Linked DNA regions of Homo sapiens: all the other regions are linked to region 4. Evidence: fine-mapped expression QTL. A gene starts in region 4. Each other region holds a variant in brackets. All regions are shown on one strand. Distances are between the middles of the regions.

Region 1 (4,116 bases), 300 kb after region 4:
CTCACAGACGTTGGTGAGAAACAGGGTAACAGGCGATGCCACTGTGGCTGCAGGGGGCAGCGGCAGAGACCCTGAGAGGTGGGAGGGAGGCAGGTTGGGAAGGGCCGGTCTCGGCACAAATTGCTCTTCAGTGTGGTCCCTCCAAGGCCTCCTCTTGAGTACCTCAGAGAGGACAGCAGATGCAGTTGACCCCCACCCGGGCCAAGGCCCACCCAACACGAGCCGCATGCCAGAAAACAGACCCAGCACATCCATCTGCTTTTGGTGTCCCCTACGAGGCACCCAGAGGAAAAAAAGTAGGCAGAGAAGAGATTTTTCAAAGTGAAGCTAGGCTTATTTACATTCCAGTTCCCCCAGCAACCTACACCTAGAGGCCGAACTTAAAATAGAGATCAGAGTGAAGGATTACTCATCAACAGAACGAACTTAAAATTTAAGATGAAGAGGCCAAGTGCACTAGTGCCCTGGTGCACGTCAGGGCAGCATCTCCCTACGCGTTGGCCACACCGGGCCTGTGCTTGGAGTGAGGAGCCAACATACCCCATTCAGGACCCCAGCCTCCCCGGGCCACACCTCTGTGCAACTGCAGCTCTCATCTTGCCCAAGCCCTGCCCCAGCTGTGCCCCAGGCCGCGCTGACAGCTCCAGCAGCCCAGCCCTGGCCCTACCCCTGAACATGCGTGACCATGGACAGAAGCTCCATCCCCTCGAGCTTTTGTGTCCGCAGCTGTGAAACATGTGCAAGAAGGCCACAGACAGCCCTGGGGAGGAAGCACGTTGCACAGGGCCACCCGAGCAGAGGTAGCCCTGCTAGGGGTTCCATGCTCCCAGGCCACCAAGCTCCACGCTGTGCAGGGAGCCTGCAGTAGCCTGGAGGGAGAAGTGGCCCAGCCCCAGTCAGCGGGTGTAGCCGCAGCCAATCCACGGAACAAGGCCTCCACAGAGCACAGCCCACCCCACACAGGCCACTGAGCCCCTAGCTCTGCACCTTGCCTACCAGCCCAGGAGCAGGAGGGAGAGGAGTCCGTGAGCTGTGGTCAGCAGCTAGGGCGTGTTCTGAGCCTGCCTTGGCAGCTGATGAGCCCCCCACTCCAGAGGAAAGGCAGCCCCGGACCCCAGAACCAACTAAAAGGAGCTGTTGGTGCGGCCTGAGTTGCATACTGTTGCCCATGGCCAGGAGCCAACCCGGCTGCGCATTCTGCATGTGGCCACTGAAGCAAACTGTTTTGACACCATAAAGCAACAGATGAGGCTAACTTAAGCAGGATTTACACTCAATTGTATTTCTCTGAGAGCAGGCACATCAATTTGTGCGTCATTGTTACTGATTCACAAGCCTTCCACGGATCCAAGTCCTCCCTGCACTCTTCCTCTCCTCTTCTGCCTTCCTTTGCCTCAGCCCAGGCTGTGTGGAAGCCACCCTCCTCTCCTCTCCCCTTCTCTTTCTTCCTCTGTCCTCTCCCCGTCCTCTCCCATCCTCTCCCCATCTCCTCCTCCTCCCTCCTCCTCCCTCCATCTCTCTCATCCCCTTTCTTTCACCTCTCCCCGTTCTCCTCTCCTCCCCTCCAGCTTCCCTGCACAATACACAGGTACGTGTTGGCTGCAGTTGTTTGTCATTTTCACTGGACTTTTCCCTTAGTGGTATTTCCTCTATGGTGATGGGAACAGAATCACACCCTGGTTTCTCTCCATTTGTCACCTAGACATAGCATTGAAACTGTGAACGTGGTGGGGTGGCGGGGTCCTCTCCTGATGATTTTGTGTATCCTCCTGAAGCCCAGAGTTGGTCCTAATTTCACTGTCAGTGTTCACCATTTCAAACAGGGAAAGAAACAAAGATGCCAGCCACAGTTGGAGCCCACAGCATGTCCCTAGGAGGAGGGCATGAGGGACACCTATCAACAAAGGAAATAGCCAAGGTCATTGAATGAGGGCAGAGGGCCTTGCTATGTAGGATTAGGATGTTCGAAAAGGGGGGCAGATTTCATATTAAGGCCAAGAAACTTTTAATCTCTACAAGGTTCTCCTGCTATTCCAGAATATTCCACACTGGTTCTTTTTTCCTGCTTGAGCCCTCGTGAGCTGCATTCTGTTTCTGTTTTCACTTCTAAGTGGGGTTCCTCCAGCATCAGGAGGGTGCAATGGTGGGGTCTATGAGCTTCCCTCATATCCCCAGAGATGCACTGTGTGCACAAGCCGCTGGATAGGGTCAGCATCCCCACCCAGCAGCCTGCACTGGTGTGAGGTCCACCAGATCACTCTTCATTAACATTCATCTTTGGTCTCTTAGTGAACTGAGGCCTCCACCAGCTTCCGTGGC[T/C]GAATCTTGTGAGCAAATAAAATAATCTGGTATGTTCTCTCCCTCCGTTCAAAACCAACCTTCCCCAAATCCCAAAAGTAGCAGAGCACTTTTGTAAGTATTATCCAATCTTTACAAGGAAAAGATATAGGTATAGTTAAGTATTTTATGAGAGTAGCTTGGCCCATGGGCTGAGTTAGAGGCACAGCATCTAAACCCTAAGCTGGGATTTTCACCACTAAATTTGCTCTTTCCTTATTTGCAAATAAGACTTAAAATTAAGGCTGGTGTAATCCCAGCACTTTGGGAGGCTGAAATGGGAGGATTGCTTGAGACTAGGAGCTCAAGACCAGTCTGGGCAACATAGTGGGACCCCATCTTTACAAAAAATAAAAAACTTAGCCAGCATGGCGGTGCACACCTGTGGTCCCAGCTGCTTAGGAGGCTGAGGTGGGAGGATCACTTGAGCCCAGGCCATTGAGGCTGCAGTGAGCTATGCTTGTACCACTGCACTCCAGCCTGGGTGACAGGGTGAGATGCTGTTTCAAAAAAAAAAAGGTCAAGTAATTAACCATAGCACAATTACTGCAAGGAAGTGTGCAACCACAGTTTTCTAACTTAACCACCTTTCCCTTAAAAAGGGCCTCTGAGGTCTCTTCCACCTCTGGTTGATTGGATAAGCCAGGCAGGAAAACCAGGCCAGGTTATATTAAGTGAGGAAAACCCAGCCCAAGAATAGCTTAGCTCACCCTCAGTTTTCCCTAAGGTTTCCCTTGCTCAGAGCATCAGACTTTAGAAGAGGAAAACACTGGAAATCCAAAGAGCTGGCCCTGGGATGCAGTTCAGAGAGTCCTTGAGGGCTTTGGGGTCACTGGGCCTTAGGGAGCTGCCTTCCTATCTGTCAGATGGGCAGGTGGAATCCTCCTAAGGCTGTGGGTGACAGGCACACCCCTCCCCTGCAGGCAGCTCCCCGAAGGCTCCCTGCCTCGTGGGTTTGTTATGAGGAGTGAGCTGGGGAGGGTGTGTGAGGCCTCTGTAAACTGCAGAGCCCCCATAGACTCTAGTGGGTCTTTTTAGGTTGGGTTCCTCCAAAGACAACCTCCCCCCAGGAATGCCGGCCGGTCCCCTATCCCCAGGAGGGCTCCCACTGACACTGGCCCCATGCTTTGCCCGCAGGTACCTGGCGCTCTACGCCTACAAGCCCCAGAAGAGTGACGAGCTGGAGCTGCACAAGGGAGAGATGTACCGGGTCCTCGAGAAGTGTCAGGATGGCTGGTTCAAGGGGGCGTCTCTGAGGACCGGGGTCTCTGGGGTGTTCCCCGGAAACTACGTGACACCCGTTTCCAGGTGAGGGCATGGTGGTGGCAGCCTGGGCAAGGAGAGGGCAAGGGCCTGCACGCCTTACCGCTGTTGTTACTGCTGGAGGCTACTCTGTCAGCCGGGCCCAGAAGGCAGCAAGGCCACCAGTGCCCAGGGTTCAGCCCCCACTGGCGTCCCCAGGCCCACATTTCACCTTCTGAGCTGGGTTTGCACTCAACTCCTTGGCTGTCCTCAGCAGACATTGGCCACCAAGGGGAGAAGAATGGGATCAGGAGGAGCAGGGACAGGAAAGTCACCAGAATGAGGTCTCAAGTGTGAATGTGTGTTTGTGTGAGGACAGTGTGTGCACATATATACAGTGTGTTCAGCGTGTATGCTATGCGTGTGCAGTGTGTGCACGCTTCTGTGTGCTTGTGTGCATGGTATTTGTGCATGTGTGCAGAGTATGTGCAGTGTGCGTGCCTGTGCACGTGCGTATGCATACTGTAAGCACAAGGT
Region 2 (4,116 bases), 200 kb after region 4:
AGTACTTACGGTCTTCACTATACTACGTACTTTTAATAGTTTATTTTGTGTATGTCTCTGTCCCCTTATAAAGTGTATGCTCCCTTAAGGTAGAGATGTTTTTATCTATTTTGTTTCTATTTTCTTTATCTATTTTGTTAGTTCCTAGAACCATGTCTGGCACATATTAGGTGGCCAATAAGTACTTGGTGACTGATTGAATGAATATAATATTAAGATGATTTTTTAAAAGTCTCGTGTTCAGATCTTTGCCAGGGGCACCCTGTCATGCCCCTGGGGTCTCCCCTGAGGAGAGACCTCTCACCAGAGGAGCTGCAGTCCACTGCCTCTCTGGAGGGGTTTGCCTGCACCCTCAGCACCTGGCCGATCCTCCGATGGGTCTTCCTGGTGCTGTGACTGTCTGTGACTAGTCGTGGATGCCGGCTGAGCCTGGGAGCAGCGGTTACCGGAAATCTGTGGCTTTCTGCTTTAGCTAAAGAGAGAAGACTGCATGTGTTTGCCAGTCTTTTGGGTGCTTCTGTTTAGCATAGACATTGGCCAAGGCTGCTGGTAAAGAGCACCAGAGAGGCGCTTTACCCATGAGAGGGAAGCATCTGCGGCCCGGAGCCCTCTGCAAGCTGCCTCATGGGACCCCTAACAGACCTTCTTGCCTCTCTGAGTTCAGGGTAGAAACAACCTGCTGATCCGTCTGTTTCCCTCTGGCACGCCAACTCTCTCCTGAGAGAGCTCCTCCTCCTGATTCTGTGTTCTGAGAGTTGCGCCCAGGGGTGCTGCACTTGCTCCTTCCTTCTCAGCCTGTAGCTCAGCTCTGACACTCCCGCGACTCCCCCAGCACCCCGAGCAGGGTGCAGGTCTTCCTGGACGGGCTTGGGGCTGAGTGCAGCAGAAGCAGCACAAGGCTCCTTTGCTGCCTCTGCCCCTAAGGAGTCCCAGGATGTGTGAGGAACAGAGCTTTCTCCTGTCCCGAGCTCCCCGCAGTTCAGCCCTCTCTGGACTAGACAGTTCTGCATTTCTTAGCTCACTGTGCTGTGCTAAGGAAGCCAGGGCTGCCCCGTGGGTGGAACATCCTCTAATTTGCCAGGCAGGAAAGGATGGGGCGATGAGTCACCCTTCTGAGTGATTCCTGCCGAGCTTCCTACAGAACATATCCAGGAGCAGCCACCCCGCCCCCAGGGTTAGTGTGTGGAGGCACAGGTGCTAGTGTGGGTGGTGAGAAATAGGACTCGGAATCACCCTTTTTAACGTGCACAGTATGTTAATTGTGTCCTCACAAAAGTGTTGAAGTGTTTCTTGCCTTATAGAATAAATGGTCAGAAACCAGTGGATTCCTTTGAGCTGTTTTGATGGGAGGAAATTAACTGTGACAGTGAGACCTTGGTGGTCCCAACATCAGCAGGATGCAGAAGACAGCCTAGCCTGCTGGGTCATGTATTCGTCTTCGGCAGCCTGGGATTGGGAATGCGCGTGAGTGCAGAGCTGCTCACTGCCTGGTGCCCTGCAGCTCCAGTGCTGCCTCAGTGCGTTCCAGGAGAGACCTCAGTTTCCAGCCCTAGCTCAAGTCCCAGGGTTGATCTTGCTCGCGGCAGCACCAGGCCTGCACCTCGGAAAGGCATGATGGACTTACCTGTATCTATCAGGTTCAGGCATTCTCCTGCCTGTAGTTGAGAATTCAAGTTCAGGGTGATTAGTTTCGCCTTTTAAAAGAGCCCTAGCATATCCTTGCTGGATATATTCATTGCTGAAATGCACAAGAAACTGAATGTGATCAATGTAATGTATTGGTTTCAGCATCAGATGTTAAGAAAGTGAATCTGTTGAGATTCTTGCTTTTAAAAACACAAAATAAAACAAGCCTAACCTTAGTCAGTCATCCTGGACTTGAGATCACATTTCACAGTCTACAAAGTGAGGTTTCACGTATAGCATACCCCACCTGTTTGTGTAAGTAAAGTTTTATTGGAACACAATCTCACCCACTAATTTACATGGAATCTCTGGAGCTCTGGCTGCTACAATGGCAGAGTTGAATAGTTACAGCTAACACTGATGGCCTGCAAAGCCACCTTGCTCCACTAGAGACAAAGTTTGCTGACCGCTGGCATAGAAGATAAGAGCACAAATTCTGAAACCAAACTGCTAGAGTTTAAATCCCAGCTCTGCCACGTATTGGCAGCATGACCTTGAACATGTTAATTAACCTCTGTGTGACTTAGTTTCCTCCACTGTAAAATGGAGATAATATGGAGATAATAATATCTCCATTATAATATTAATAATTATAATTATGATGATATAATAATGATATCACCAAAATAATACTTGTCTCCTAAGGTTGCTATGAAGTTCAGAAGAATTAATAATGAGGACATGCTCAGAGTACTTTCTGACAAGTGGTAATGTGTTAAATTTTTAAGGAAGTGGGCAGGTTTCTAAGACTTTAGGAAAGTCCAGTCGCTTCCTCAAATCACAGACAGTTGTGCATTTGAAGATCACCTCAAAACCAGGTTCAG[A/T]GGCTCACGCCTATAATCCCAGCGCTTTGGGAGGCCAAAGTGGGAGGACTGTTTGAGCCCACAAGTTCAGCCTGGGCTGTAACATGGTGAGACCCCGTCCCTACAAAAAAATAGAAAAAATTAGCCAGGTGTGGTGGCATGCACCTGTAGTCTCAGCTACTCGAGGGGCTGAGGTGGGAGGATTGCTTGAGCCCAGGAAGTCAAGGCTTCAGTGAGCCATGATCACACCACTCGACTTCAGATTGGGTGACAGTTTTTTTTTTTTCCTTTAAAAAAAAAAAAAAAAAAATCTTAAAAAAAAATAAAGACCACCTCATCATCAGGGTACCTCCCATAGGAAACACAGCCTTGTGGGTGTCTTGGCTTCCTGTTGGTCCAGAACCCTGCGGACTTTCCTCGCAATAAGGGCACAGACTGGCTTGGCTAAAGGAAGGGTGCTAGTGGTGCCAGCCAGCAGGGGAACCCTCACCCGCTCCGGGGATGCCAGGGATGGAGTGAGGCAGCCACAGTGTCCACTGCGCTGATTCCAGCAGGGGATGGCAGCATGGTGACAGGAAGTCACACTTAATAATGCAGACAAGAGGGAAAGGAGACCCACAGACACAGGGAGAAAAAGCTGCAATATGCCTCTTCAACTCATGAGAACAGGAGGCGATGGGCCACAGAGGCTGCTGAAGGAGTTTGTTCCTGCCTCTGTTTTTCTCTCTCCTTCTCCAACTAGAATGTTATGTGCCACTTGCTCCCCTCAGTAGCACTTCCAGGACAGGTGGACTACATATTTGTGGAACCCAGTGTTTTTATTGAGAAGCCTTCTTTTTGCTTTTTAGGCTGGCCTTCCTGGAAAGGTTCTGCTTTTAACTCTTTGCGTGCCTTCCCAGGCCATGCGTCCTGGTGCGAGGCTCTGAGAACGCGATTTATGTCACCGCGTTGGCGACTTACATGTGCTCCCTGATCATTGAAGACACGGTTTTGTCTCTGCCTGGGATCATGGTGGTCATACCACTCCCTGCTTCAAAACCGAACATTTCGTGTTTTCGGAGCAGATTCGTCAGGACGTTTTGCAGCATCCTGGGGTGTTACCTGTTCCTTGCGCCTGATCTAGAGTTCCGAGGCCTACGCACCTCAGAGGAGCAGCTGTGGGGACTGTGGGGCAAGGCCCCTCGCCCGTCCCACACGAGAACGGCTCTTTCTAGCATGTTTTCTCAGGTGTCTCTTTATCCTCTCCCTATGCCTCAAGTTTCCACATTGAAAACTCTCAATGGCGTTTATTTCCTTCTGAGTCTCTGCTGGGCTGTTCCAGCCCTTCCACAGCCCCTACCCTGGGAAGCCCGTACCTCTTCCACACGCCACCTCCTCTCTGCCCCTCAGGGCTGGGACATGCTCGTCGACTAGCCCTCGCTCATCCACGTGTCCCTCAGTTACCTTCTCGATGATGACGTTCTAAGATTTCACCCTATCCCCATCCCAGTGTTCATGTCCCCTCCCCTGGTTTATGTGTCCCCTTAGCACTTAACCACTTTCTGACATTCTCTAGATTTTACTTATTTGTATGTTTTGTTGCTGTCCCCCTGGCTGGAACATAAACTCCACCCGGGTGGGGACCTCT
Region 3 (4,116 bases), 98 kb before region 4:
CCTGGGATGCCTGCCTGCTGCCTGTGCTGTCTCCTCTGTTCCCCTCTCCTTTCCTGGCTGGAACAGCTGCAGGACAGGGCCCCCCGGCAGCCATCATCCAGCCTTTCATCTCTATCCTTGTCTCCAGCCTTGCCAGCAACTTAAGCCTAATCATTGCACAATGAAAGGCTGTTTCTCTCAAATGGATGCAGACATCCTTAGCCTTCAGGGGCAGCCTCTTATTTTGCTCACAGATAAGGCTGTTTATTTTAAAGAAATACTATACTAATAACCCTCTTGACTTGACAAGGATCCTGGTTGCTATCTCTGTATTGATGGATTGATTGATTCATTCATTCAGTAAGCATTTACTGAGTGCCAGTTCGAGTGTGTGGGTGAGTCTTAGATTTACTGCCTCCTTGACATCATTCTTTAGAAAGAATTCTTTGACTCTAACTTTTGTTTGCTACCTCAGAATGTTCTGCCTATGCAAAGAACAGTTTCAAATCAACCTGGATTCGAGAGCTCATGAAACTGATCCTCAGCCTTCATTTTCAGCCTTTTCCTCAATCCTCCCCTGCACAGCCAGCTGGCTCAGCACTCTCCCCAGCAGGCCATGCGCTCAAGTGCTTTACCTTCAACATTTTCCCACTGAAGACCCAGCCTTCTCCTCTAGCCAAATTATGGTATGCTACGTAAAATTCCTTAGAATTCTATTTTAAGTGAATTTCACGTAAGTAAAGCCCATTGTTAATGTCATTGGAAAGGTTATTTTTAAATGAAGAGGTGTGCCATACCCTGCCAAATGTGATAATGTGTATAGTAGCACCTAGCACAGTGCCTGGTGCATTCTGGATAGACAGTAAATATGACCTGAATGAATGAAAGAATGGGCCTCACTGTCTGATGGGATGAGGCTCCCTGAGAAGGAGTGGGGAGTGGTGGCCTCTTTGAGGATGACCAGCAGGCTGTTAAGCAGAAGGCTCCTTCTAGAATTGTACTTTCCTGAGTACCTAGGACCAGCTTGGGGCCCCTCAGGCATCTGAATTTTTGGACCACTTTGGTTTATATAACCCACTTCTTATCCAGGTTCTGTCTCTTGACAGTTTTTGTTGTTGTTGTTGTTGTTTGTTTGTTTTCTAGGTCTCACTATGTTGCCCAGGCTGGTCTTGAACTCCTGGGCTCAAGCAGTCCTTCTGCCTCGGCCTCCAGAGTAGCTGGGACCACAGGTGCACCACACCCGACTTTGGCAGTTTTTTAACATCTCCCAAGTCTTTATTTTCTTGGTAAAATGGTTTAATAATTGGTATATATACTCATAACTAGTACACAGACTAACACAGTGTGCATGTATACCACCATCAGTGTCATCTGCACCTTTTGTCTCACTGACTCATGGTAAGACACGGAGCGCTCCACGAGGGGACGCCATGTGTGGAGATGCTGGAGTCTAAGGGTATTGTGATTGGGCAATGGTAAGAACTCCGGGTCCCTAAGTCCATTCCTGCTGCTACAACAAAACACCTTAGAGAGTAATTTATAAATAGCCATTTCCTTTTCACCGTGCTGGAGGCTGGAAGTCCACCATCAAGGTGTCAGCAGTGAGGGGGGCCTGTTCCTCACAGATGGGGGCTTCTTGATGGGTGCTGGCTGACTCAGCACAGATGGGGGCTCTGATGTGGCAGGGGTGGGGTAGAGACGGGAACGCTCTGCAGAAGGAGCGGAAGGGAGGAAACAGCTTCCTCCAGCCTTCTTATAAGGTTATCAGCCCCGTTCCCCTTACGACGGAATCACTTCCCTGGAGGCCCCCTCTTACTACTGTTGCACCGGGGACTGGGCTTCAATCAGTAGCAGCAGGGGATGCGCGCTCAGACCCAGCAGTCGGCTCTGCCCGCCTCGCCGGGCTGCACCGAGTCCGCGGGTCTCTAGCGCACGGCCTGGCCCCACGTGCGGCGAGGAGGGCGCAGTGAAGTTCTGCTGTGTGCACCCCCTGCAGCTCGGCCGGGAAGCGCCCGCTGGAGGAACGGAGAGCGCCGCTTCAGCGTCGGCC[A/T]CGTGGGCCGGGCTCTGCCGGTGGCAACCTGGACGCGCTGCGGGCGCCGGCGAGACCTGCGCCAACGCCTACCTCCGGGCCACAGGCGGGATAAAGCTGCCCCACTTTGCCCCCAGCGAAGAGAACCCTCCTTCCTCTAAGTATTTTCTTCAGCAACTAAGCTTTTCTGTTTGCTCAATTTCTTGTCCCGTGAGCGCTACCACCCACCCCCCGCCACCTTCTTCCCCTCCCCCCACATCCGTTCACTCTCTTTGACCTTTTGCCAAAACTCTGAACGCTCGCTGCCCTCCCTCCCATTTCCTCACCGCGTTTCAGGAGCTGTAAGTTCTTGGTGTTCAAACCCCCTACGGTTACGTAAACAGAACTCTGCAGTTATCTTCTTTCCCTTTCTTCGGAGCTTTGTTTTCAAGTTCATTAGAGACTTCCTGTGGGTGTAATTACCGCTCTGCAGTTTTGAGCGCTGCCCACCTTCCCCCTGTTTTGTTAAAAATGTCATAGATCTTTGGAGATTTCTTTCACTTCTAAAGTTATTACCTGTCTGCCTGCACATCAATCTTGTTGATTTTATTTCAGGGCATTTTCCGGAGTGAACTTCTGCATAGCGATTTTTTTTGTCCCTCCCCACCCCCTCTTTGTTTTGCAGGAAGGTGAAATAAGACAGAAGAAAAGGGTTAGAACTTTAGAACTCCAGGACCCAACCTCAGTCCTTTCAAGCACCGTCTGCAAACAGATGCTGTGCTAGACTCAGCACCCTGTCTGGTGAAACTGCTCCTTGGGGTGACATCGGTCGAATGTGTGAGAGGCTTCAGCGGATGCCCTGACTTTTACACCATGGAAGGGCTTTCTCCTCACTCTCCATTCTTCATCCCACTCCATCCATGCGCTTTCTCCCCTCCCCATGGGGTGGGGTGGGGGAGTCTTTCCTCCAGCTGAGAGCAGAGGCCTTGGCCAACTAGATGTGTCTTCTGGGATTTCACAGTCGGGCCACCTCTCACCTCTTGCACAGGCTGGTGGGTTAAATGAAACTCCTGTAGCAACTCACAGAGCATTTGATTTAAAGCTAAGATTTATAGGAACTCACAAGTCAGAATGGAACAATAATTTCCCTCCGGTTGCACTGCCACTACTGAGGAGCAATCGCCTAATTCCACACAGAGTTTGCTGATTCTGTGGGCCTAACAGAGAACTCCAGATGGGCAACTAGGAGCTAAGAAGTGCATCCTATGTCACCAGGAGCTAATTTTCCCTGGATTTTCAAAGAGGCCTCATATTTGACCCATGTCATGGCAGGGTGAAATATAAGTCCTTCCTGAACCCTTGGAAGCTGAACGTTGTGGACATCAGCCATGGGAAATACATTTCCTTTAAACTGATCACCAGGCCTTAGTATGATCCATGCCTTGAGTGGACAGAGACCTTTCATGTTTGGTCATTACTCAGCCAGACACTTCTCTGAGAGGTGATGACTTCCCTAGGAAGGAATAACAAAGCCCCTTTCAGGCTGTTGATGGGCCCTGTCCACTTTAATTTTGCATTCAGCCTCGCTCATTTCTGTGAGCTGAGATTTTGATTATTCTGATTTCCACGACTCCTTTTGTGAAACAGAGACACTGAGGTGAATGCACGGGCCCAGTCCCCTCCTTTTTGAGTGTGCCCTCGGAAGCAGAGGCAGGTGGTGTTGCCGAAACACCCAGGTTCTGTCTAGGTCCTGCCGCTCCCTGCACAGAAAGCCAATCACAGAGATGACAAGTATTGCCAAGGAAGAAGGCTTTAATCAGGTGCTGTAGCTGAGAAGATGGGAGCCCAGTCTCAAATCCATCTCCCCATCCACCTAAAACTAGGGGTTTATACACCAGGGAAGAAAGATAACAGTGTGTAAGAAAACAGGAACTACGGAGGGGCAAGGAAGCAGTCACAATGTAGGGTATCTCATTGTCTGGATGTGTTGATCTGGTGAGTTTCCCTTCTTTGATGATACTTTTTTTTTGAGAGGCGGTGGCTCATGCCTGTAATCCCAGCACTTTGGGAGGCTGAGGCGGGTGGATCATTTGAGGTCAGGAGTTCGAGACCAGCCTGGCCAACATGGT
Region 4 (4,116 bases):
GAGAGACGTATCCTTTCATTAATTCTACAAATATTTATTGAACACCTACTATATGCTAGTCACTGCCCTAGGCACTAAGGATATTACAGTAGAAAAGATCTGTAGCTTACAGAGAGCTTACATTCTAATGGCATGTAAACTTTATGTGTTAGTTCTGTGGATACAAAAATGAAAATTCAGCCCCAATGGCTTTACAAGTATGAATATCACTTTCCTCATTTGTAAAATGAGTTTAAAATAATTATCACAGGTTGGGCACCGTGGCTGGCGCCTGTACTCCCAGCACTTTGTGAAGATGAGGTTGGAGGATCTCTTGAGCCCAGGAGTTTGAGACTAGCCTGGGCAACATAAGGAGACCCTGTCGCTACAAAAAATTTAAATTAAAAATTTAGCCAGGCGTGGTGGCGCACCTGTAGTTTCAACTATTCAGGAGGCTGAGGTGAAAGGATGGCTTGAGCCCAAGAGTTTGAGGCTGCAGTGAGCCGTGATAGCACCCCGCGCTCTAGCCTGCCTGACAGAACGAGATCCTGTCTAAAGCTATGGAAGTAAATATAAATAAATAAAATAATTATCTGGCAGAGCTGTTTAGAGGATTAAATAATATATAGCACGCTCTTGGCCTTTTAGCCTCAACAAATACTACTTTTTTCCTTAATAATAACAGAAAGATCATACAACTTCACAAACCACAAGGACAGGCTGGCCGATAGGCAGGCCCCCCACGACTCTTCTGATGTTAGCCCTGACTGAACTCGCTGTGCAGCGTCCAACCAATCCTGGTTTGTGCTGGGCCCTGGACTGGAACCCAGCCCTTCCCGACGGGAACGCAAAGCGGCCACGAGGGGGCAGCGCACGGCAGGGAATCTTCGCCGCCGACCCCAGCCCACCGCCAAACTTCCCTGCTGCTCTCGGTCCTCCTGTACGTACTTCCGTTGCTCTGACGCTCCCAGAAGCCGGGGCGTCGGGAAGGAGAGCGCGAATTCACCCTCCTCTGCGCCTCCGTAGGAAAAAATTGGAGCGGGGGTTCACGAGACTGCGCCGCGGCGGGCGCTAGAGCCCCTCGCACAGCGTCGCCAAGGGTGCGGCGTGGAGCCGGGCGCCTGGCGCCAGGGTGCTGGTCGGCGGGCAGCGGCGCCAGCCTCCGACCCGCGACTCCGGCGAGCCAAGGCTGCGCCGGGAGGAGTCGGCGCGGGCCCCGGGGTGCCCCCTTCAACTGGAGCGCCTTCCCCTCCTGCCTTGCGGCGCATCCCCACACCTACACCGGAACGAAGCTCCGGGGCTGTCACTTCTGCGCGCTTCTCGGAAAGGAGTCTGAACTGGGAGCGCTCCGGGGGGTCGTCGGGGAGGATGCCCGGGCGTCGGCTGTGTCCCCAAGCTGCTCGCCGGCGCTGGCGAGGAAGGCAGTCGGGATAACGCCGCCCAAACTTTCCTTCGCAGCAGCGTTGGCAGGAAACGTCCCTCTCTGAGGCTCACGAAAAGCCGAAAAAGACTCGGACGCTTGGAGGAGGCAGGGCCAAGCCTGCGCAGGAGAGGTTCCCCGGAGCCCTGGAGATGTCCTAGGGGACCAGGCTAATCGCCGGCTTGCGCCCAAGCGAAGGGAAGTCCTGCAGGCACGGCGCCTCCTTCCCTGAGCCCCGCAGTGACCGTGACCTCCGCGCGCACCCCCGCGCACGTGCTCGCGGCCGAGGAAGAGGAACGGTCCTGCTGAATCCTCTGGAGGACAGCGACTAGCGAGCAGGCCAGGGGCGCATGGAGGTGCCGCGGGGGCGGTGCGGCTCGCCAGCTGCGCGGAGGAGCGTGCACGCCGCGCCCCGGCCTCCCCGGGGACCTGGCCGGCCGCTGCCCGCACTTCCTGCCGCTGGTCTCCCAGGCGCGAGCCGCCGCTTGCAGCACAGAACCCGTTGAGCTTCGTGCCCGGCAGCACCCCCGGTCCCCCGCGCGGGGCGGACTTGCGGCGGGACAGGTGTAGCCCGCAGCCGCAGGCGCTGCGCTCAGGACTGGGCGGGCTCGGCTGGCCGGTCCCCGCCACGCAGGCCGGTCCCCGCCACGCAGGCCGGTCGGTGAGCCACTTCGCACCGCCACAGCCCTAGCATCGGGCCACCAGCCGGGGTGAAGAAAGTCACGGCGGAGCCCGGCTCCCCAGTCCTGATGCTGGCTGCCGGTGGCGGGCTCCACGCCGGCCCCGGGACCTAGGCAGCCGCGCGAGACCGCTGCGGGCGCCTCCCCCATGCTGCTCGGAGCGTCCTGGCTGTGCGCATCCAAGGCGGCCGCCGCTGCTGCGCAGAGCGAGGGCGACGAGGACAGGCCAGGCGAGCGACGGCGGCGTCGGGCGGCGGCCACCGCCGCGGGGGCGGGCGAGGACATGGACGAGTCGTCGCTGCTGGACCTGCTGGAGTGCTCCGTGTGTCTGGAGCGCCTGGACACCACGGCCAAGGTGCTGCCATGCCAACACACTTTCTGCCGCCGCTGCCTGGAGAGCATCGTGTGCTCGCGCCACGAGCTGCGCTGCCCCGAGTGCCGCATCCTGGTGGGCTGCGGCGTGGACGAACTGCCCGCCAACATCTTGCTGGTGCGACTGCTGGACGGCATCCGTCAGCGGCCCCGCGCGGGCACCAGCCCCGGCGGCAGCCCGCCCGCGCGTCCCATCCCAGGCCAGAGTGCGGCCCCCACGCTCGCGGGCGGCGGGGGCGGCGCGGCAGGCAGCACCCCGGGTTCCCCGGTTTTCCTCTCCGCGGCCGCGGGCAGCACCGCCGGCAGTCTGCGGGAGCTGGCGACCAGCAGGACCGCGCCGGCGGCAAAGGTGAGTATCTGTCTCGGCGGAAGTGGCCACGGCACGTGGGAGTGTGTGGGTGGGTGCTTGGGCGTGGGGGGCAGTGATGAGGTGCGGAGGAGACCACGGGTGGTCCTGCGTTGGCCCACTCCGCTGTTGCTCTTCCTCCAACTTCGCTTGCTTGGTGGCGGCATCCGGCCCCTGGGCAGCTCGCCGCTTGTTCACGTGTGTCCCATCCTCCTGTGGAGTGGGCACGCCTTCCTGTCCCGTCGCTCACCCCCGATTCCTTGGCCGGACTTGTTACCCTGCCTCTTAAACTTAGCATCGCCCTTGCGTCTCCCTAGAAACGGGGACCTTCTTCCTCTGGGTCCCCAGACACTCCCTCTGCACACCCTGGGCCTGCCTAGAGAAAAGTTAGCCCTTAACGTTTCTGACAGGGCTCTGATGGCTGCTCTGGGAAGCCCGCGGGCCTCCTGCCTGCGGTGTGGCTAAGGAGGGGAGGGCAGAAGGCAGAGTGGGACTGGGGTTTGGAGGAATGCTTCTAGTAGTCTGGAAGGAGTTAATCTGGAGGCCCCAGGAGCCTTTTGACCCAGCCCTTTTGGACTTGGCAGTGTCTAACCAGAAGCCAAGGTCTTCTCCTGGGCTCCCAGGCAGGGTTGCATTCCCACGGGGGTCATTTATATTTATTATTATTATTTTTGGTACAGCCGCATTTTAGGGCCTTCGCTGCTTCTGTTTTAGACGAAAGATCTTCTCTGGATGGCTTCAATGATTTGGTTTTAAAAGCTTCTTACAGCTTCTTATTACACACCCTTGCCACCTTGTGAACAGTTACCAGGAGAGAGGGCATGGGATGCTGGTTTAAATGAGAAAAGAAAGGACCCGGGTTTTGTTAATTTCTTTAAATGGAGAAAAGCACTTAAATGTTAAAAAAAATACATTATCTATTGGAATAATCATTTGCTTTAGAAACACAACTTTATTCCTCTACTTTTGACCATTTAAGGAGTTGGTGATGCCTAGTCCTTCCACTATGTGTAATCCTGAAATGCTGGGAACATTCTAGCACCTGGATTAGGCAGTACTGCAAATCTCTAAGGTTAAGGTTAGGAACTTAAACCCTTGGATGTTGAGCTTGAGTTAAATGCCATACTTTGCTGCAATGGGTTTTTTTTTCTATGGATCAGGAAGAATGGGGACAGTCAAGGATAGTCACTGGGGGTCACTTGGGGGGCACTGCTGAAGGGGAATTTTTTTCTTTGGTTTTAATTGTGATTAAATCCAGCTAAATGCTTGCGTTAGAAATTTTCAAACTTTTCCTTCCTGGCCTTGCTGTTTTTGATGTA
Region 5 (4,116 bases), 96 kb after region 4:
GATGGACCTGCCCCTGCCTGGGGCTACGGTCCCCATACTCTCCCATCAACAGGGTCTGTACTCACTGCACCCTTCAGGGTGAAGAGGGCACTGTCCGCCCCTGTGGCCATCAGATGGTGTGATCCCACCTCTTGGCAGAGGCTGGCACCACGCCCTGATGCTTCTCCATCCCAGACAGGGGGAAGCAGGTGGTTGGAGAGAGGTGGGAGGATGAGGTTGCCACCTTCTCCTGAAACCAGCATGGGTGCTGCTGCCACAGATCATGAATGCTTTGTCCCCCTTTGCTGCCGTCCCATGCAGTCAAGTGCCCTGATAACCAGGAGTTGGCTGTTACCAGATCCAGAGCCCTCAGAGGCTGCGTGAGCACCAGCCACGTGAGCAGCCTACCTGGTGTGTTTCCCAGAGCCGACAGAGCCAAGAGGGGCGTTCTGAAGCCCGAAGAAGCAGGAGTGGCCACTAGGAGCTGCCGTGTGCTCGCTGTGATGGAGTTGCCGAAGTGCTTTGATTCCTCGGTTATTTCAGGCATTGTCCCCCTTTGGGAGTGGGCATGGCCTGCCCATGTCAGTCCTAGGTCAGTGGCTGGAAATGAGCAGAATGGAAGCGTAGGAAGGGCTTGAGGGGTGTGGGCACATGCTTCAGCTGCGGGCTCCATTCAAGCATCGGTGGAGGGCAGTAGCACCATGCAGACAACTGGAGCTCCTTAGTGCTCCCTGGGTAGCCCTGCACCTCTCCATGGCTCTCCCCTGAATTCTGCCCCCCACGTGATGCTGCCCCAACGTGGAGATCCGGGATGTGTCGTTGTCTTTCCTTGCAGAGCCGTGGAGGACAGCCTCTGAGCCATCCCTGCTAGTCTCTGCTCCTGGCACATGAAAGTGTTCAATACATGTTTGTGCAGAAAGTGAAATTAAAATCTGTCCACTTGGTAGCTGGATGTGGTGGCACATGTCTGTTGTCCCAGCTACTCCGGAGGCTGAGGTAGGAGGATCAGATCACTTGAGCCTGGGGGGTGTGGGTTGCAGTGAGCCATGATTGTGCCACTGCACTCCAGCCTAGGTGACAGAGTGAGACTCCGTCTCAAAAACAAATTCAATCAATAAAATCTGTCCACATGGCTCATTAATGGATAGAATGTTAAGAGCTGGAATAGCTTCAGGGTTTACCTAGCCTCGCCCCTTGTTTTACACAAAAAGAAACTGAGGCCTGGTCTCCCACTTCTGCCCCTGCTTGGCAGGCCTAGAGAGTGTGTGTGCATGTGCAAATGGAGGGGGTGTGGGCATTGGGAGTTTAAACTTGGCTTGAATAGCTAATCAGATCTATCAAAATTAGGTTTTTACCAAGCATAGTAAAATAAGACTTGTTTGGTATTATTAGTGATGCTAAAACTATATGTCACATATTGGACAAATAAGCACATTTTCAGATACGCATGTGGGATTTTGATTGCATGCTGGGTTTAGTCCAAGATTAAATCTGCATTTTGTTCTGATGTAAAAGGGACTTGAAGCAGTTTTTGAGGTCATGTGCATAGCAGCAGTGATGGAAATGTCCTGTGTCTGCTCTGTTCAGTACAGTAGCGACCAGCCACAGGTGACTACTGAGCTCATGAATGTGGCCGGCGTGGCTCAGGAAGTGGCTTTTAAAATTTCATTTTGCCAGGCGCAGTGGCTCACACCTGTAATCCCGGCACTTTGGAAGGCCAAGGCGGGCAGATCACTTGAGGTCAGGAGTTCAAGACCAACCTAGCTAACATGGTGAAACCCCGTCTCTACTAAAATACAAAAATTAGCCCAGCATGGTGGTGGGCACCTGTAATCCCAGCTACTTGGGAGGCTGAGGCATTAGAATCGCTTGAAACCTGGAGAGGGAGGTTGCAGTGGGCTGAGATCATGCCACTGCAGTCCAGCCTGGGTGACAGAGCAAGACTCTGTCTCAAAAAAATTTTTTTTCATTTAATTCTAGTCAATTAAAACTGAAATTTAAATAATTACCTGTGGCTAGTGGCTACTCTAATGGACAGCTAGAGAACTGCAGCATAACCTTATCTTTTTAAAAATCTTATTTTAAAAAGAATTTTGTGGGTTTGAAGGAAAGATTGTCTGGAAGAAGGAAGTGACTGAGACATAGCTTTTTGACACCTGGCCTGGAGCCTTTTCGTTTAGACCAACCAACTAAGCTGGATGACACCAGCACAGTCCCTTAAATTCCCTGGCCTCAGTTTCCTCTTGTGTAAAATGAGGTTCTATGGCTTCTGCTAGTTCTGAGATTCTATCTTGCCCCATTCTTGGCAACTGGGATATGAAGAGCTCTATTTTAATAACGATAATAATAAAGAAGGCTTATTAAACACTGGGGATCCGGCTGAATAGTCCTCAAACCATTGTACTCAGCTGGGTGGAGAGACCTGCAAGTAA[C/T]CAAGGGAAGTTTCAAAATGTGGGTTTCCGGGCTCCGCTTGGACCCATTTCACAGGGACCCGAAATCTGCACGTTAACAGGTTTCACAACGATTCTCACACAAACAACTCCCTTTAAAGATACAGGCCAGGCCGACTCCCCACTGGGGACTGGGTGGGCTGACCCACCTGGCCCACTCACACTCACCATGTGGAGTTTTCTCCTGAGAGTTAGGCCAGGGAATGATTTTTAATGTGGGATGCTCCACGTTCCTCTCTGGGACTTCCCATTTGCAATGTCTTAAGTCACTTTCATGTTTGAATTTAGAAAATCAAAAGATGACCGTCTTGTTTCCTGTAAATATCAGGAACAGAGAGGAGAGCAGGTGGTGTGTTTGTCCTAGACTTAAATTTTAAGATTTATTTTTATAAGTTAGTTTCAAGTTTGCTTTCTTTCGTTCTTAAAATTGAGATAGGGTCTCGCTCTGTTGCCCGGGCTGCACTGCAGAAGTGCGATCCCGGCTCACTGTAGCCTTGACCTCCTGGGATGAAGTGATCCTCCCCTCTCAGCCTCCCGAGTAGCTGGGACTATAGTCGCTTTCCACCATGCCAGCTAAAAGTTTGCTTTCAAAGAGTCCCTATTCTAATCTGTTGTTGGAGCTCTCCACAATGAATCACCAAAATACCATTTTAATATTAGAGTAGTATTTTGTCAGGAAAAAATAGGCCTGACCCTGAACAACTTATCTGCATAGCTGTAATATTGTCATTTTTGACTCAGGCTAAATCACTTGTTAATTTTAGGAGGAAATGTCAGAGGAGGTTGTCCCCAAATAGCAGTTATTATCTGTTTCCCAGGTTTATGAACCCAGCTCACAGCTCTGCTTGTCAACATCTGCAGAAGGAACTTAGAGAAAGACTGGCTCCTTTTACATTTTTTTTGTTACAATAGTTAATGTAAGAGTAGTTATGTAAACAGATCAATAAGCTCATTTTGAACATGACCCTGCCAACTGTTTCAAAGCTAAAGTCACATTGACTCAGGAAGGTCAGCTGTTTCATCTACAGTGTCTGTGGCCCATGGAGGAACTGGAGCCATGTGAGGTCTAATGACACACGTGGCCCATGTGCAGTCCTCATCGTTAAGTAAGTACCCTGCTGACCTCTTAAGACATAAACCAAAAATAAACTGTAGCAACCACTTCTTTTTAAGTCCCTTTAAAGTTTAGATTTTTACTGTTCTTAGGGTGACTTTGTGGCTCATCACTCTTAGCTTTTTCTCATTGCTTCTTGAATCGCTCCCCTTTCCTGAGTGTTTCTTGGTCTGCCATCTTGACTTCTCCCGGGGCCATGCATCTGCTCCCTTTGTGGCTCCGTTTGCTCCTAAGTCTTTGCAGGATCTCCACGCAGAAGGCGTGGTGCTGGATCTTTAGGGGACATTCAGATATAGACATGCTTTGTGCCATTAAGGAACTTGTGGCTTAGTAAGAAGAACAGCTGGTTACAGAAATGAACCAGGACCCCTACAGCTGCAGGAGAGAAACTAACTGGAATCAGTCAAAACACAGAGAGAAGCAAAGCCGTGTGGTGGCCCAGATAACCAAGGGTCCTGAGGTAGATGCATCCACCATGGCCGGGTTCATGGCTCAGATGATGCCATCAGGACTTGGTCTCTTTCTAGCTCTGGGTCCCACCAAGCTTTTCCATGGTGGCCTAGCAGCTCCACT

The links.
Region 1: its variant is fine-mapped to the expression of SH3RF3 in whole blood (TOPMed, PIP 0.93).
Region 2: its variant is fine-mapped to the expression of SH3RF3 in whole blood (TOPMed, PIP above 0.99).
Region 3: its variant is fine-mapped to the expression of SH3RF3 in whole blood (TOPMed, PIP above 0.99).
Region 5: its variant is fine-mapped to the expression of SH3RF3 in whole blood (TOPMed, PIP above 0.99).

Annotation. Positions count from the first base shown.
Region 1 is chr2:109,429,027-109,433,142 of GRCh38, forward strand. It overlaps SH3RF3 (SH3 domain containing ring finger 3), which reads left to right. Exons shown (of 10, transcript NM_001099289.3): 6 at 3,475-3,645. It also overlaps a transcript of RANBP2 not described here. Among named protein-coding and RNA genes, the nearest start is that of MIR4266, 120 kb to the left of the region's middle. RefSeq lists an enhancer at 796-1,359. The variant T/C (reference allele first, on the strand shown) is at 2,320.
Region 2 is chr2:109,331,579-109,335,694 of GRCh38, forward strand. All of the region lies in intron 1 of SH3RF3 (SH3 domain containing ring finger 3), which reads left to right. It also overlaps a transcript of RANBP2 not described here. Among named protein-coding and RNA genes, the nearest start is that of MIR4266, 20 kb to the left of the region's middle. The variant A/T (reference allele first, on the strand shown) is at 2,511.
Region 3 is chr2:109,029,658-109,033,773 of GRCh38, forward strand. It overlaps a transcript of RANBP2 not described here. Among named protein-coding and RNA genes, the nearest start is that of EDAR, 42 kb to the left of the region's middle. The variant A/T (reference allele first, on the strand shown) is at 2,030.
Region 4 is chr2:109,127,314-109,131,429 of GRCh38, forward strand. SH3RF3 (SH3 domain containing ring finger 3) reads left to right here and starts at 1,892. Exons shown (of 10, transcript NM_001099289.3): 1 at 1,892-2,800. The coding sequence starts at 2,228. It overlaps SH3RF3-AS1 (SH3RF3 antisense RNA 1), which reads right to left and starts at 2,806. Exons shown (of 1, transcript NR_029193.1): 1 at 14-2,806. It also overlaps a transcript of RANBP2 not described here. RefSeq lists silencers at 1,108-1,167, 1,548-1,617, 1,628-1,677, 1,708-1,907.
Region 5 is chr2:109,222,926-109,227,041 of GRCh38, forward strand. The region is part of intron 1 of SH3RF3 (SH3 domain containing ring finger 3); the gene reads left to right. It also overlaps a transcript of RANBP2 not described here. Among named protein-coding and RNA genes, the nearest start is that of MIR4265, 83 kb to the left of the region's middle. The variant C/T (reference allele first, on the strand shown) is at 2,412.